2 separate regions of the Homo sapiens genome follow, and region 2 is linked to region 1. A link means that fine-mapping ties the variant in region 1 to the expression of a gene that starts in the linked region. Tissue or cell type: tibial nerve. Region 1 holds a variant in brackets; the other region holds the start of a gene. All regions are shown on one strand. Distances are between the middles of the regions.

The links. PIP is the estimated chance that this variant, and not a neighbour inherited with it, causes the effect.
Region 2: it holds the start of TRPV1, and the variant in region 1 is fine-mapped to the expression of TRPV1 in tibial nerve (GTEx, PIP 0.95).

Annotation. Positions count from the first base shown.
Region 1 is chr17:3,170,347-3,178,448 of GRCh38, reverse strand. LOC100288728 (a long non-coding RNA gene) reads left to right here and starts at 1,514. Exons shown (of 4, transcript NR_147912.1): 1 at 1,514-1,573. The variant G/A (reference allele first, on the strand shown) is at 5,074.
Region 2 is chr17:3,605,673-3,613,774 of GRCh38, reverse strand. It overlaps TRPV1 (transient receptor potential cation channel subfamily V member 1), which reads left to right and starts at 4,364. Exons shown (of 17, transcript NM_080704.4): 1 at 4,364-4,466; 2 at 5,210-5,348. It overlaps SHPK (sedoheptulokinase), which reads left to right. Exons shown (of 7, transcript NM_013276.4): 7 at 2,803-5,535. The coding sequence ends at 3,215. RefSeq lists an enhancer at 3,973-4,474.

The DNA of each region.
Region 1 (8,102 bases):
TTTGGCATGATTTTGCAGCAGCTGGTACCAGTTGTTCCTTTCCATGTTTAGCGCTTCCTTCAGGAGCTCTTTTAGTGCAGGCCTGGTGGTGACAAAATCTCTCAGCATTTGCTTGTCTGTAAAGGATTTTTTTTCTCCTTCACTTATGAAGCTTAGTTTGGCTGGATATGAAATTCTGGGTTGAAAATTCTTGTCTTTAAGAATGTTGAATATTGGCCCCCACTGTCTTCTGGCTTGTAGGGTTTCTGCCGAGAGATCAGCTGTTAGTCTGATGGGCTTCCCTTTGAGGGGTAACCCGACCTTTCTCTCTGGCTGCCCTTAACATTTTTTCCTTCATTTCAACTTTGGTGAATCTGACAATTACGTGTCTTGGAGTTGCTCTTCTCAAGGAGTATCTTTGTGGTGTTCTCTGTATTTCCTGAATCTGAACGTTGGCCTGCCTTGCTAGATTGGGGAAGTTCTCCTGGATAATATCCTGCAGAGTGTTTTCCAACTTGGTTCCATTCTCCCCATCACTTTCAGGTACACCAATCAGACGTAAATTTGGTCTTTTCACATAGTCCCATATTTCTTGGAGGCTTTGCTCATTTCTTTTTATTCTTTTTTCTCTAAACTTCCCTTCTGGCTTCATTTCATTCATTTCATCTTCCATCGCTGATACCCTTTCTTCCAGTTGATCGCATCGGCTCCTGAGGCTTCTGCATTCTTCACGTAGTTCTCGAGCCTTGGTTTTCAGCTCCATCAGCTCCTTTAAGCACTTCTCTGTATTGGTTATTCTAGTTATATATTCTTCTAAATTTTTTTCAAAGTTTTCAACTTCTTTGCCTTTGGTTTGAAAGTCCTCCCGTAGCTCAGAGTAATTTGATCATCTGAAGCCTTCTTCTCTCAGCTCGTCAAAGTCATTCTCCATCCAGCTTTGTTCCGTTGCTGGTGAGGAACTGCATTCCTTTGGAGGAGGAGAGGTGCTCTGCGTTTTAGAGTTTCCAGTTTTTCTGTTCTGTTTTTTCCCCATCTTTGTGGTTTTATCTACTTTTGGTCTTTGATGATGGTGATGTACAGATGGGTTTTTGGTGTAGATGTCCTTTCTGTTTGTTAGTTTTCCTTCTAACAGACAGGACCCTGAGCTGCAGGTCTGTTGGAGTACCCTGCCTTGTGAGGTGTCAGTGTGCCCCTGCTGGGGGGTGCCTCCCAGTTAGGCTGCTCGGGGGTCAGGGGTCAGGGACCCACTTGAGGAGGCAGTCTGCCGGTTCTCAGATCTCCAGCTGCGTGCTGGGAGAACCACTGCTCTCTTCAAAGCTGTCAGACAGGGACATTTAAGTCTGCAGAGGTTACTGCTGTCTCTTTGTTTGTCTGTGCCCTGCCCCCAGAGGTGGAGCCTACAGTTGCAGGCAGGCCTCCTTGAGCTGTGGTGGGCTCCACCCAGTTGGAGCTTCCCGGCTGCTTTGTTTACCTAAGCAAGCCTGGGCAATGGTGGGCGCCCCTCCCCCAGCCTCGCAGCCGCCTTGCAGTTTGATCTCAGACTGCTGTGCTAGCCATCAGCGAGACTCCGTGGGCGTAGGACCCTCCGAGCCAGGTGTGGGATATAGTCTCGTGGTGCGCCGGTTTTTAAGCTGGTCTGAAAAGCGCAATATTCAGGTGGGAGTGACCCGATTTTCCAGGTGCGTCCGTCACCCCTTTCTTTGACTCGGAAAGGGAACTCCCTGACCCCTTGCGCTTACCAGGTGAGGCAATGCCTCGCCCTGCTTCGGCTTGCGCACGGTGCGCGCACCCACTGGCCTGCGCCCACTGTCTGGCACTCCCTAGTGAGATGAACCCGGTACCTCAGATGGAAATGCAGAAATCACCCGTCTTCTGCGTCGCTCACGCTGGGAGCTGTAGACCGGAGCTGTTCCTATTCGGCCTTGTTGGCTCCTCCCCCTGTTTTCCCTTACTTCTGACTCCTCTTCTTCTCCCCTTTGCTAGAAGGATGCGCATTGGAATTAGGGGTGCTGTGGAAGGCAATCGAGTTCATTTTTCTTGTTTTTTTTTGTTTTGTTGTGTTTTGAGATGGAGTCTCACTCTTGTTGCCCAGGCAGGAATGCAGTGGTGCCATCTCGGCTCACTGCAGCCTCCGCCTCCCAGGTTCAAGGGATTCTCCTGCCTCAGCCTCCCATGTAGCTGGGACTACAGGCACCCGCCATCATGCTTGGCTAATTTTTGTATTTTTTAGTAGAGGTGGGGTTTCACTATGTTGGCCAGGCTGGTCTCCAACTCCTGACCTCAGGTGTCTGTCCACCTCAGCCTCCCAAAGTGCTGGTAGAGGCTGTTTTGCCTGTTTAGGGCTTTCAGTGATAGGGAGCCCCCCACAGTAAAGCGACCCACCCCACTTTGGATTGGGTTCCCATTTTACCTTGTGATGCTGTAGCCTGGGCATTTTTTAGTACTAACCAGTTGGGGCTCACTGGACATTCAGGAGCATATTAATTTCCATATATTTGTATATTTTCCAAAAATTTCTCTCATTATTGATTTCTAGTTTTATTCCATTGTGGTCAGAGAAGATACTTGATATTATTTGAGTTTTTTTGAATGTGTTAAGACTTGTTTTGTGACCTAACATATGGTTTATCCTTGAGAATGATTCATGTGCTAAGGAGAGGAATGTGAATTCAGCAGCCATTGGAGCAAATGTTCTATAAATATCAATTAGATCCATGTAGGTCTATAGTGCAGATTAAGTCTGAAGTTTCTTTGTTGACTTTCTTTCTGGAAGATCTGTCCAATGCTAGTGGGCTGTTGAAGTCTCCAGTATTATTGCATTGGGGTTTATCTCTCTCTTTAGCTCTAATAATGTTGCTTTATATATCTAGGTGCTCCAATGTTGGGTGCATACATATTTAAAATTGTTATATCCTTTTGCTGAATTGATCCCTTTATCATTATATAATGACCTTCTTTGTCTCTTTTTATAGTTTTTGCTTGAAATTTATTTCGTCTAATATAAATATACCCACTCCTACTCTTTTTCCACCCCTTTATTTTCAGTCTCTGTGTACCTTTATAGATGAAGCGTGTTTCTTGTAGGCAACAGATCACTGGGTCCTGCTTTTTTTCAGTCAGCCACTCTATGTTTTTGATTGGATAGTTTAGTCCATTTACATTCAGTGTTATTATTGATGAGTAAGGACTTACCACTGCCATTTTATTATTTGTTTTATAGTTGTTGTGTGGTCTTACTTTCCTTCCTATCTTTTCCTTTTTTTTTTTTTTTTTTTTTTTTGAGATGGAGTCTTGCTCTGTCGCCAGGCTAGAGTGCAGTGGCACGATCTCGGCTCACTGCAATCTCTGTTTCCCAGGTTCAAGTGATTCTCCTGCCTCAGCCTCCCAAGTAGCTGGGATTACAGGTGCCCGCCACCATGCCTGGCTAATTTTTGTATTTTTAGTAGAGATGGAGTTTCACCATGTTGGCCAGGATGGTCTCGATCTCCTGACCTCGTGATCCACCCACCTCGGCCTCCCAAAGTGCTGGGATTACAGGCATGAGCCACTGCGCCTGGCCCTCCTTCCTTTTTTTTATTTTAGTGAAGGTGATTTCCTCTGATAGTATGTTTTAATTTCTTGCTTTTTATTTTTTTGTGTATCCATTGTATGTTTTTGGATTTGAGGTTATCATGAGGTTTGCAAATAATGTGTTATAACCTATTATTTTAAACTGATGGCAACTTAACATGATTGCATAAACAAACAAGCAAAAAGAAAATGAATAAAAACTTTACACTTTAACTTCATCCCTCCACCTCTCTAATTTTTTGATGTTTCTATTTATATCTTATTGTACTATCTGTGTCTTAAAAAGTTGTTTTGGTAATTATTTTTGATTGGTTCTTCTTTAAGTCTTTCTAATTAAGATCAGAAGAATTTACACACCACAATTAATATTCTATGTACTTACCATTAGCACTGAGTTTTGTGCCTTCAGCTGATTTCTTATTGCTCGTTAACATCTTTGTCTTTCAGATCGGAGACCATCCTTTAGGATTTCTTGTAGAACAGGTCTAGTGTTAATGAAATCCCTCAGCAAGCTGTTTCTCTGGGAAGGTTTTTACTTCTCCTTAGTATTTGAAGGATATTTCCACCAGATACACTCTTCTAGGGTAAACTTTGTTTTTTCCTTCAGTGCTTTAAATATATCATGCTACTCTCTCCTACCCTTTTCTCCACTGAAAAGTCTGCAGCCAGATATATTGGAGCTTCATTGTATGTTATTTTTTTCTTTTCTCTTGCTCCTTTTGGGATCCTTTCTTTATCTTTGATCTTTGGAAGTTTGATTATTAAATAACTTGAGGTAGTCTTTTTTGGGTTAAATCTGCTTGCTTTTCTACAACCTTCTTGTATATTGATATCTTTCTCTAGGTTTAGGATATTCTCTGCTATTATCCCTTTGAATAAACTTTCTATCATTATCTCTTTACCTCCTCTTTAAGGCCAATCACTCTTAGATTTGCCTTTTTGAGACTATTTTCTAGATCCTGTGGGTATGCTTCATTCTTTTTTATTCTTTTTTTTTTTTTGCCTCCTTTGTGTATTTTCAAATACCCTGTCTTCCAGCTTACTATTTCTTTCTCCTGCTTGATCATTTTTTCTATTAAGAGACTCTGCTGTATTCTTTTGCAGGTCAATTGCATTTTTCAGCTTCAGAATTGCTACTTGATTCTTTTTATCCATTTGAATTTCTTTGTTAAATTTATCTGATAGTATTCTGAGTTCCTTCTCAGTGTTATCTTGAATTTCTTTGAGTTTCCTCAAAACAACTATTTTGAATTCTCTCTCTGAAAGTTCACATATCTCTGTTTCTCCAGGAGTGGTTCCTCTTACCTTATGTAGTTCATTTGGTGAGGCCGTGTTTTCCTGGATTGTCTTGATGCTTGTGGAAGTTTTTCAGTGGCTGAGGATTGAAGGGTTAGATATTTATTGTAGTCTTGCCAGTCTGGACTTGTTTGTACCTGTCCTCTTGGAAATGCTTTCTAGGTATTTGAAGGGACTTGGGTGTTGTGATCTACATTTTTTTTTGTCACTGCAGCCATATCTGCATTA[G/A]GGTGCACCTCAAGCTCAGTAATGCTGTGGTTTTTGCCAACTTGTAGAGGTACCTACCTCCTTGGTGGTCTTGGATAAGGTCCAGAAGGATTATCTGGAGTACCAGGCAGAAACTTTTGATCTCTTCCCTTACTTTTTCCAAAACAAATGGAATCTCTCTCTCCCCTTCTCTGTGCTGAGCTTCCTGGAAGCTTCCTGAGCTTCCTGGGGGAGGGGTAACACAAGTACTCCTGTGGCCACCACCACTAGGGCTGTGCTGGGTCAGACCTGAAGACAGCACAGCACTGGGTATCATCCAAGACCCACTGTTACCACTCCTTGGCTACCACTTGTGTTTGCTCAAGGCCCTAGGGCTCTACAGTCAGCAGGTGGTAAAGACAACCAGGCTTGTCTTCTTCACTTTGGACTGCCAAGTCACCCAGGCCCTGGGTGAGTCCAGAGATGCCATCTGGGAGCCAGGGCCTATAGTTGGAAGCCTTAGAAATCTACCTGGTGCTCAATTTACTGCATCTGAAGATGACACCCAAACCACAAGAAAAAGGCCTTCCCACTCTTCCCCCACCTTTCCTCAGACAGAGGAGTCTCTCCCCATGTCCACCACCACCACAGGCCCATAAGAAATACTGACAGGTGTATTAGGCTGTTCTTGCATTTCTATAAACAAATACCTGAGATTGGATAATTTAAAAGAAAAGAGGTTTAATTGGCTCATGGTTCTGCAGCCTATACAGGAAGCATAACACTGGCATCTGCCTCTGGGGAGGCCTCAGATAGCTTTTACTCATGGTGGAAGTTTGAGGCACTTTACATGGTGAGAATGGGAGCAATAGAGAGAGAGGTGGGGAAGGGGCGTGCTTCACACTTAATCATATTTTGCAAGAACTCACTTATTATCACAAGAAAGCACCAAGCTATGGAGAATCTCCACCCATGACCCAAACACCTCCCATCAGGCCCCATCTGCAACACTGGAAATTATAATTCAACATGAGATTTGGGCAAGGACAAATATCCAAACTATATAATACCATTTCTGGTCCCCCACAAATCTCATGTACTTCTCACATTGCAAAACACAATCATGCTTTCTCAACAGTCCCCCAAAGTCTTAACTTGTTCCAAAAGTTCAATTTCTCATCCAAGACAAGGCAAATCCCTTCCACCTGAGTTTATAAAATCAAAAACAAGTTATGGACTTCCAAGATACAATGGGGCTATAGGCATTGGTTAAACATTCTCATTGCAAAAGGGAGAAATTGGCCAAAAGAAAGGAGCTGTAGGTTCCACTCAAGCTTGAAACCCAGCAGGGCAGTCATTAAATCTCAAAGCTCCAAAATAATCTTTGACTCCGTGTCCTACATCCTGGGCACACTGATATGAGGAATGGCCTCCCAAGGCTTTGGGCAGCTCTACCACTGTGGCTTTCCAGGGTTCAGCCCCTGTGGCTTCTCTCATGGCCTGGAGTTGAGTACCTGTGGCTTTTCCAGGTATAGGGTGCAAGCTGCCAGTGGATCTACCATTCTAGGGTCTGCAGGGTGGTGGCCCTTTTTCCACAGCTCCATTAAGCTGTGCCCCAGTGGGCACACTTTGTATGGGTCCTCCAATCCCCCATTTCCTCTCCTTACTGCCCTGTGAGGGCTCTGCCTCTGCAGCAGACTTCTGCCTGGATGTCAGGCTTTCCCATACATCCTCTGGCATCTAGGTGAAGGCTGCCAAGCCTCCTTCACTCTTGCTGTGCCCCTGCAAGCTTAACACCACATGGAAGCCACTAAGACTTATGGCTTACATTCTCCAAAGTGGCAGCATGAGCTGTACCTGGGCTCCTTTGAATCACAGCTGGAGCTGGAGTGGCTGGGATATGGGAACAGTGTCCCAAGGCTACACAGGGCAGCAGAACCCTGAGCCTGGCCCAAGAAACCATTCTTCCCTCCTAGGCCTCTGGATCCATGATGGGAGGGGCTGCCATGAAGGTCTCTGAAATGCTTTCAAGGACTTTTTCACATTGTCTTGGATAGTAGCACTTGCCTTCCCTTTAGTTATGCAAGTATCTCTAGCAAGTGGTTGCTCTACAGCCTGCTTGAATTCCTCTCCATAAAAAGTTCTTTCTTTCTTTGCCACATAGCCAGGCTCCACATTTTTCAAACTTTTACATTCTGCTTCCTGTTTAAATATAAATTCCAACCTTAAGTTATTTCTTTGCTCCTGCATCTGAGTGTGGGCTGTTAGAAGCTGCCAGGCAATTTCTTCAATGTTTTGCTGCTTAGAAATTTCTTCTGCCAAATATCTTAAGTCATCATTCTCAAGTTCGACCTTCCACAGATCCCTAGAGCATGAACACAATGCACCCCAGCTCTTTGCTAAGGCATAAACTGGGTGACCTTTGCTCCAGTTTCTAGTAAGTTCCTCATTTACATCTGAATCCTCATCAGCCTGGACTTCACTGTCCATATTACCATCAGTATTTTGGTTACAACGATTTAGCCAGTCTTTAAGAAGTTCGAAACTTTTCCACATTTTTCTGTCTTCTTCTGAGCCCTTCAAACTCTTCCATCCTCTGCCCATTACCCAGTTCTAAAGTCACTTCCACATTTTCAGATGTAGCCATTTTCAGGTATCTTTATAGAAATTCCCCTCTTCTCAATACCAATTTTCCATGTTAGGCTGCTCTTGCATTGCTATAAAGAAATATCCAAGACTGGGTAATTTATAAGAAAAGAGGTTTAATAGGCTTACAGTTCTGCAGGCTGTACATCAGCATCTGCTTCCGGGAAGGCCTCAGGGAACTTTTCCTCTGGCAGAAGGGTGCAGACACTTCACATGGCAAAAGTGGGAGAGAAAGACAGTTGTTATGGGAGGTGCTACACACGTAAACAACTAGATCTCTCAAGAACTCGCTCATGATCACGAGGCGTGCACCAAACCGTAAGGAATCTGCCTTCCTGACCCAAGCACCTCCCACCAGGCCCTATCTCCAACACTGGAGATTACAATTCAACATGAGATTTGGGCAGGGATAAATATCCAAACTA
Region 2 (8,102 bases), 440 kb before region 1:
TCCAGCTTGGGCAACATAGCAAGACCCTGTCTGTAAAAAAAAAAGAAAACTTTTTTTCCTGAACTTTTACTAAAGAAAGATAAGCACATGATTTAAAAAATAAAATAGCCAGGCGCGGTGGCTCATGCCTGTAATCCCAGCACTTTGGGAGGCTGAGGCGGGCGGATCACCTGAGGTCAGGAGTTCGAGACCAGCCTGGCCAATATAGTGAAACCCTGTCTCTACTAAAAATACAAAAGTTAGCCAGGTGTGGTGGCACACGCTTGTAATTCCAGCTACTCGGGAGGCTGAGGCAGGAGAGTCACTTGAACCCGAGATGCAGAGGTTGCAGTGAGCTGAAATAATACCACTGCACCTGTGCATTTGCAGAGGTTAAACATTCCCATGGCGTGACTCCTCAGTGACTCTCTAGATTGGTGGGTCTTGGCACTGACCACACCCTGGAAATACTGTGGAGTTTAAAAACATCGTTGCATCCTGGTCCCACGCCCAGAAATGCTGATTTATTGGACCTGGGGTGTGGGCCTTGAGCATGAGTTTTATAAAAGTTCCTCAGGTGATTCTGAGGCCTGAAGTGTTAATAAGCACTGCTCTAGAACTGTCTCCTCAGAAAGCCTGGTCTACTGGCCTGGAGTACAGTTTCCTCTGGGAGCTTTTAACAAATGCAGAATGTTAGGGTCAGCCCTAGGCAATCTGAGTCCAAGCTATGTGTTAAAAAGATCCCTGGCTGGGCGTGGTGGCTCACACCTGTAATCCCAGCACTTTGGGAGGCCGAGGTGGGCGGATCACGAAGTCAGGAGTTCCAGACCAGCCTGGCCAATATGGTGAAACACCGTCTCTACTAAAAATACAAAAATTAGCCTGGAGTGGTGGCATGCACCTGTAGTCCCAGCTACTCGGGAGGCTGAGGCAGAAGAATTGCTTGAACCTGGGAGGCAGAGGTTGCAGTGAGCCGAGATCGCGCCACTGCACTCCAGCCTGTGTGACAGAGCAAGACTCCGTCTCAAAAAAAAAAAAAAAAGATCCCTGAGTGACTCATCTGTATGTTCAGGTTGGAGAAGCCCTAGGCTGGAGAAGCCCTAGGTCTAGGTCGGGGGCTCCCCAGCGTGGCTGTGTATAAGAATCAACTGCAAGTGTTTACAAATTCCAGCCCGCAGCCTGCAACCCACACCAGTTAAATCAGAAAGTCTGGAGATGGGGCCCACAGTGCTCTCAAGAAACCCTGATGTTGATAACTTTCTTCTTATCAAGGTGATGTTTGCTTTCCCTCAGGTCATGCGAGGTTATAGATCAAAAGTGATTCTAAGGTCAAAGTGTATCGAAACCAAAGGCTTTTTTTTTTTTTTTTTAAGACTGAGTCTCGCACTGTCACCCAGACTGGAGTGCAGTGGCACCATCTCAGCTCACTGCAAGCTCTGCCTTCTGGGTTCAAGCGTTTCTCATGCCTCAGCATCCCAAGTAGCTGGGACTACAGGCACACACTGCCATACCTGGCTAATTTTTGTATTTTTAGTAGAGACAGGGTTTTACCATGTTGTCCAGGCTGGTCTGGAACTCCTGACTTCAAGTGATCCGCCTGTCTTGACCTCCCAAAGTGCTGGGATTACAGCGTAAGCCACCGCGCTTGGCCTTTTTTTTTTTTTCGTTTGTTTGTTTTAAGAATGCAGAGCTGGCGGGGCATGGTGGCTCATGCCTGTAACCCCAGTACTTTGGAAGGCTGAGGCAGGTAGATCACTTGAGGTCGAGAGCTTGAGACCAGCCTGTCCAATGTAGTAAAACCTTGTCTCTACTAAAAATACCACAATTAGCCAGGTGTGGTGGTGTGGGCCTGTAATCCCAGCTACCTGGGAGGCTGAGGCAGGAGAATCGCTGGAACCCGGGAGGCAGAGGTTATAGTGAGCCGATAGGATATGTGCCACTGCACTCCAGCCTGGGTGACACAGCGAGCCTCAGAAAAAAAAAAAAAAAAAAAAAAACCCGCAGAGCTAACGTGGTGTCAGGGAGAAAAGTCCGATCGGGATTCTGGCTTGACACTGAAAAGCAAGTTGTAGGATGGTCAACTCATCCTTCTTCCTTGGATTTCAGGTGCCCTGTGCACATAACGAGGGTGGCCCATTCAGTGATTGGTCCTGGATCCTGGGATTTCTGATGCTGCTAACGACCCCAATGACATCCATGATGATAGTTTTGTTTGTTTGTTTGTTTTAGATGGAGTCTTGCTCTTGTTGCCCAGGCTGGAGTGCAGTGGTGCAAGCTCCGCTCACTGCAACCTCTGCCTCCCAGGTTCAAGTGATTCTCCTGCCTCAGCCTCCTGAGTAGCTGGGATTACAGGTGCCTGCCACCACGCCCGGTTAATTTTTGTACTTTTAGTAGAGACAGGGTTTCACCACGTTGGCCAGGCTGGTCTTGAACTCCTGACCTCAGGTGATCTGCCCGCCTTGGCCTCCCAAAGTGCTGGGATTACAGGCGTGAGCCACCACGCCCAGCCAATGATAGTTATTAGTCTGTATATGCATTTGGTCCCCTTGGTTAAGAAGCCTGTGTTAGGGGTAGGGCTCATGGCAGCACTTAATGAGACCTCACCCTGATGTCTGGCTGGGGTCTGCACTGAGACAGCGGGCGGGGATCCAGGGCAGAGTGTAGCTAGCCTGGCTATAGCAGTCCCTGAGCCCAGAACCACCAGCTGCAGCGGGAGGAGAAGCAGCAAGTAGCGCTGTTCCCACCCTGTGGGAATTCTCTGCCATGTCAGCCTGCACTGAGGGGGACGCATGAGCTTACACAGATCTTCTCTGTCTCTGGCAGGCCTGGAGGTTGAAGAATCCACTGTGTATTCACGCATGATTCAGGCAGCTGTGCAGCAGAGAGATACCCACCTGACCATCACCCCGACAGTGCTGGGGGAGAGGCACCTGCCGGACCAGCTGGCCTCAGTGACCAGAATCTCCTCCTCCGACCTCTCCCTGGGGCACGTGACCCGGGCTCTGTGCCGAGGCATTGTTCAGAACCTGCACTCCATGCTTCCGATTCAGCAGCTCCAGGAGTGGGGCGTGGAGAGGGTGATGGGCAGTGGGAGTGCGCTGTCCAGGAATGACGTGCTGAAGCAGGAGGTGCAGAGGGCTTTCCCTTTGCCCATGTCCTTTGGGCAGGATGTGGATGCAGCTGTCGGGGCAGCTCTGGTCATGCTCCGGAGACACCTCAACCAGAAGGAATCTTAGACAGCAAACTCTTTCGCCAAACGACTGCTGTGAATTTTACCTGATTAACATTCCTGACACCATCTGTGGGTCATCCTTTCCCTGGACCGTTCAGTGGACAGCTTTCAAGCAGTGCTTGTTGTGAGGTCCCATCTCGGCCAAGAACTTACCTTCAGAACATACTCTAATAATGCAGCCAGGAGCCGTCAGCCAGATCCCAAATGAGTGCCTTCCGAAATTGACCCACCTGGGAGCTATTTACAAATGTCCATGTGGGAGAGAGAGAGCATGAGAGCACAGTAGCCCAGCCTGCTGGTCAGCAGGCTCATCTGTGGTTCACCTGTAGACAGAGAGCAGATCAATGTGTACTTCAGACACCAGAAAGTCTGGTGGCTTTGGTCCCAAGTGGGAAAAGAGAACTGCCCCATGCCCAGCTTGTGATTATCGTTTTTGGAGACCTGAAGCCCACACTCGGGTCGTATGGACTTCTGGAAAAGTTCTTGTCTCCTGGACTGAACCATGTGACCGGAGGCCCCTTTCCTAGTCTCATCCTCCCCTGGCTGCAGATGCTTAGCTGGGCCAGGGATTGACCCAAGCGCGATGCAGCAGGCAGGCTCAGAAGACGATGCGGGGCTGTGTGCCGGCCTTCTTGCTGCATGTACTCAGCCTCAGGAGAGCTTGCTGCACCCAGGCCGCCCAGGTCTTCACAGCACAACTGCCTGGAAGGCAGGTTGCGAGAAGGAGAGGCGGATGGCATGAGCAGCAAGGGGGACCGATGCTGTGCAGCTCACACCACTCCAGAACCTGACAAGGCACCAGCAGGACCCCTTGCCAGGAGCATGTCTGTGCAGCAGTGTTTTTGCCCCTGCACATTCCAGAAGCCCTCATGGGAAGGGATGCAGCCAGGCAGACTCCTGCCAGATGGGGCAGGTAGTTTATTCAAAGAGAACTCTGTATCCCATAGGCCCAGGCTCTCCTTTCGCTTGGCGTGGGCTTTGCTGGCCCAGTGTGTGCTCCTGGCTCAGCAGAAACATCCATTTGAGTTGGCATCCCTGTAGGGATCCCAGAGCGTTGTAAGCCTTCTTGTGATTGGTAGGGATGGCTGTGGGGTGGCTTCCAGGAGGGGGCCACCATTGCCGCATCTACTTCTAGACTCCCAAAGGAGCCCAGGCTCAGGCAGGCCTGGCCCAGAGTCACGCTGGCAACCACGAGTTTGGGAAGCAGTCGTATTCTCTCTCTCTCTCTCTCTCTCTCTCTCAGTATCCATGACAGGTATGAAACATATTGTCTCTTTATAAATGTCATTTTACAAATTATGTGATTATCTGGAAGCTCTAAGATGAGAGCAAATGCCTGATCACTCTGGCCAAATGTCAGATACTAAAGCCCATTCTTGGCCGGGCATGTTGGCTCCCGCCTGTAATCCCAGCACTTTGGGAAGCCCAAGTGGGTGAATCACCTGAGGTCAGGAGTTCAAGACCAGCCTGACCAACATGGGGATACCCCGTCTCTACTAAAAATACAAGCCGGGCGTGGTGGCGCATGCCTGTAATCCCAGCTACTCAGGAGGCTGAGGCAGGAAAATCACTTGAACTCGGGAGGCAGAGGTTGCAGTGAGCTGAGATCGCGCCATTGCACTCCAGCCTGGGTGACAGAGCAAGACTCTGTCTCATAAATAAATACAAAGCCCATTCTTCCAGAGTCTTGTGCCTTAAATAAAACACACCTCTCTGCTGTGGGAAGACTGTGCAATGGCACAGCCGCAGAGCTTGGTTTGGGAGGTTGAAGTGCTCTGGGGAGAATTCGTAGATCATCCTCAGAAAAGCCTTGCCCTGGTGTTCTACCAGAAAAACGTCTCCCAATCACCCAGGAAAGCTGTCCACAGTAGTCCCCCCTTATCCACGGTGTCACTTTCCATGGGTTCAGTTATCTGCGGTCAACCACGGTCTGACAATATTAAATGGAAAATTCTTCAAACAGTTCCCAAGTTTTCCCTTGTGCATTGTTCTGAGCAGTGTGATGGAGAGTCTCTGCCGTGCCATCTGGGATGCAAACCGTCCCTGTGTTCCCCACGTCCAGGCCGTAGATGCTCCCCGCCGGTCAGTCACTTAGTCGTCAGATCGCCCGTCCTGGTATCACAGTGCTTCTGTTCAGGTCAGTCTTTTTTTACTTCATTAGGGCCCCAAAGCACCAGAGTAGTGATGCTGGTAGTGATGCTGGCTGTTCGGATATGCCAAAGAGAAACCGTAAGGTGCTTCCTTTAAGTGAAAAGATGGGAAGAAAACAGTCATATGCTGAATCTTCTATCTGTGAAATTCTAAAGAAAAAGAAATTCGTGCTAGTTTTTTTTGCCTTTTTTTTTTTTTTTTTGAGACATAGTCTCACTGTGTCACCCAGGCTGGAGTACAGTGGTGCAATCTTGGCTCACTGCAACCTCTGCCTCCCGGGTTCAAGCGATTCTCTTGCCTCACCCTTCTGAGTAGCTGAGATTACAGGCTCCTGCCACCACGCCTGGCTAATTTAGTTTTAGTAGAGATGGAGTTTCATCATGTTGGCCAGGCTGGTCTCGAACTCCTGACCTCAGGTGATCCACTTACCTTGGCCTCCCAAAGTACTAGGATTGCAGGCGGGAGCCACTGACCCCAGCCTCATGCCAGTTTTGCTGTCACACCTCAAACTGCAAAAGTATGGTCACAGTGTGTGATAACTTTTATTAGAGTGTATTGTTAAAACCGTTCTACTTTGGCTGGGTGTGGGGGCTCACACCTGTAATCCCAGCACTTTGGGAGGCCGAGGCGGGTGGATCACCTGACATCAGGAGTTTGAAACCAACCTGGCCAACGTGGTGAAAACTCGTCTCTACTAGAAATACAAAAGTTAGCTGGGCATGATGGCACGCGCCTGTAATCCCAGCTACTTAGGAGGCTGAGGCAGGAGAATCGCTTGAGCTCTGGAAGCAGAGGTTGCAGTGAGCTGAGATCGCACCACTGCACTCTAGCCTGGGTGACAGAGCGAGACTCTGCCTCAAAAAAAAAAAAAAAATTGTTCTACTTTATTGTTGTTGTTAATCTCTTACTGTGCCTAATTTGTAAATTAAATTATATTACAGATATGTATGTGTAGAAAAAACATGGCATATGCAGGATCCAATACTAGCCTTGGTTTCAGGCATCTATGCAGGGTCTTGGGACATATCTCCTGTGGATGACAGGGGGCTACTGTATTTTTTTTTTCTTTTAGGCAGAGTCTCCCTCTGTCGCCCAGGCTGGAGTGCAGTGGTGCGATCTCAGCCCACTGCAACCTCCACCTCCCGGGTTCAAGCAATTCTTGTACCTCAGCCTCCCGAGTAGCTGAGATTACAGGCATGTGCTACCACACCTGGCTAATTTTTGTATTTTTAGTAGAGATGGGGTTTCACCATGTTGGCCTGGTCTTGAACTCCTGACCTCAGGTGATCCACCTGCCTCAGCCTCCCAAAGTGCTGGGATTACAGGCGTTAGCCACCATGCCTGGCCTGCTACTGTAATTTTTCTTTCAGCCAAATGAGTTTAAGATGCTGTCATTGCAGCCCTGAGGAAGGCTGCATGAGAGAGAAGAGTAGGCTGAGTTTACCAGCGTCCTTTGTCTTTTGGGAGGAGCCAGGCCGTCTAATCTCAGAGTGGCAGCCTGTCTCGCCTGCCCAGCATGCAGTGGATGGGGTCTGCAAATGTAAGGTTAGGAACGGGATGGACATCCAGCAAGCTCAGGCAGCCCAGCCTTGTGCCTGGTGTGGCCCCGGAACTCTCTGTCCTCTTTCCAGACTATGCATTCACTCTGCCTCTGAGGACTGAGCCTTGGAGGGTCCCAGTTTGTCAATAAACAGGGCTGCTCCTGCTGCTTCCGTTGCCTGAGGCCTGGAGCCTCCGTCTAGGTGGGGGATGAGTGCAGCTGCCTGAAGTCACAACCACGTGCACAACCCACCCTCCTTCCCAGGAGGTGCCAGTAAGTGGTTTGAGGCCGGCATGCTTCTGAAGAAGTGGTGAGCGGGGCTCCTTTGCTGGCCGTCAGTATCCCGATGCTATGAGCCCACGGCAGGGCTGCACCTTCCCCCCGATCCGCTTCGGCCAGTGGGACGTGCACAGGGAATGCCTGTCACTCCTGGGCAGAGGTCTTTAGGAGCCAGTGAGCTACTTGCCACACACCCTTCCCTTTGCCACAAGTGACTGGCAGTGCCCCAGAGAGTGGTAGCTCTGTCAGCCTGGGTCCCTGAGTGAGGACAGTGTGGTGTAGAGTTCTCACCAACCAGCGAGGGACGTGCAGTGGGACAGAGAAGTAAGCGCCCTTTGGTGCAGTGCCTCACACCTGTAAACCCAGCACTTCGGGAGGCCGAGGAGGGCGGATCACTTGAGGTCAGGAGTTCCGAGACCGGCCTGGCCAACATGGTGAAACCCCGTCTCTACTAAAAATACAAAAAAATTAGCCGGGCATGGTGGTCGGCACCTGTAATCTCAGCTACTTGGGAGGCTGAGGCAGGAGAATCGCTTGAGCCTGGAAGGCGGAGGTTGCAGTGAGCTGAGATCATGCCACTGTACTCCAGTCTGGGAGACAGAGCGAGATTCTGTCTTTAAAATAAATAAATAAATAAATAAATAATAAACCTTTGATGTTTGAAGCCACTGAGATTTGGGGGTTGTCACCACAGCAGAGCAGCCTCAGTAGCCTGCACCTGGGACGTCTCCCATGCACCCAGCACAGACCCAGGCAGCCACATTTTCTGAGCGCCCAGTAGTAGCTGGGTGTTCTCTCAGAGACTGCCCCCCGTTGAATTTCCATCACGAGGCAATGGAAAAATACCAACAGTTGGTTACATAAACAGACCCTAGGAAAAGAAAAAGACACAGACAATGACAGCACCTCTATGCCCAGAGG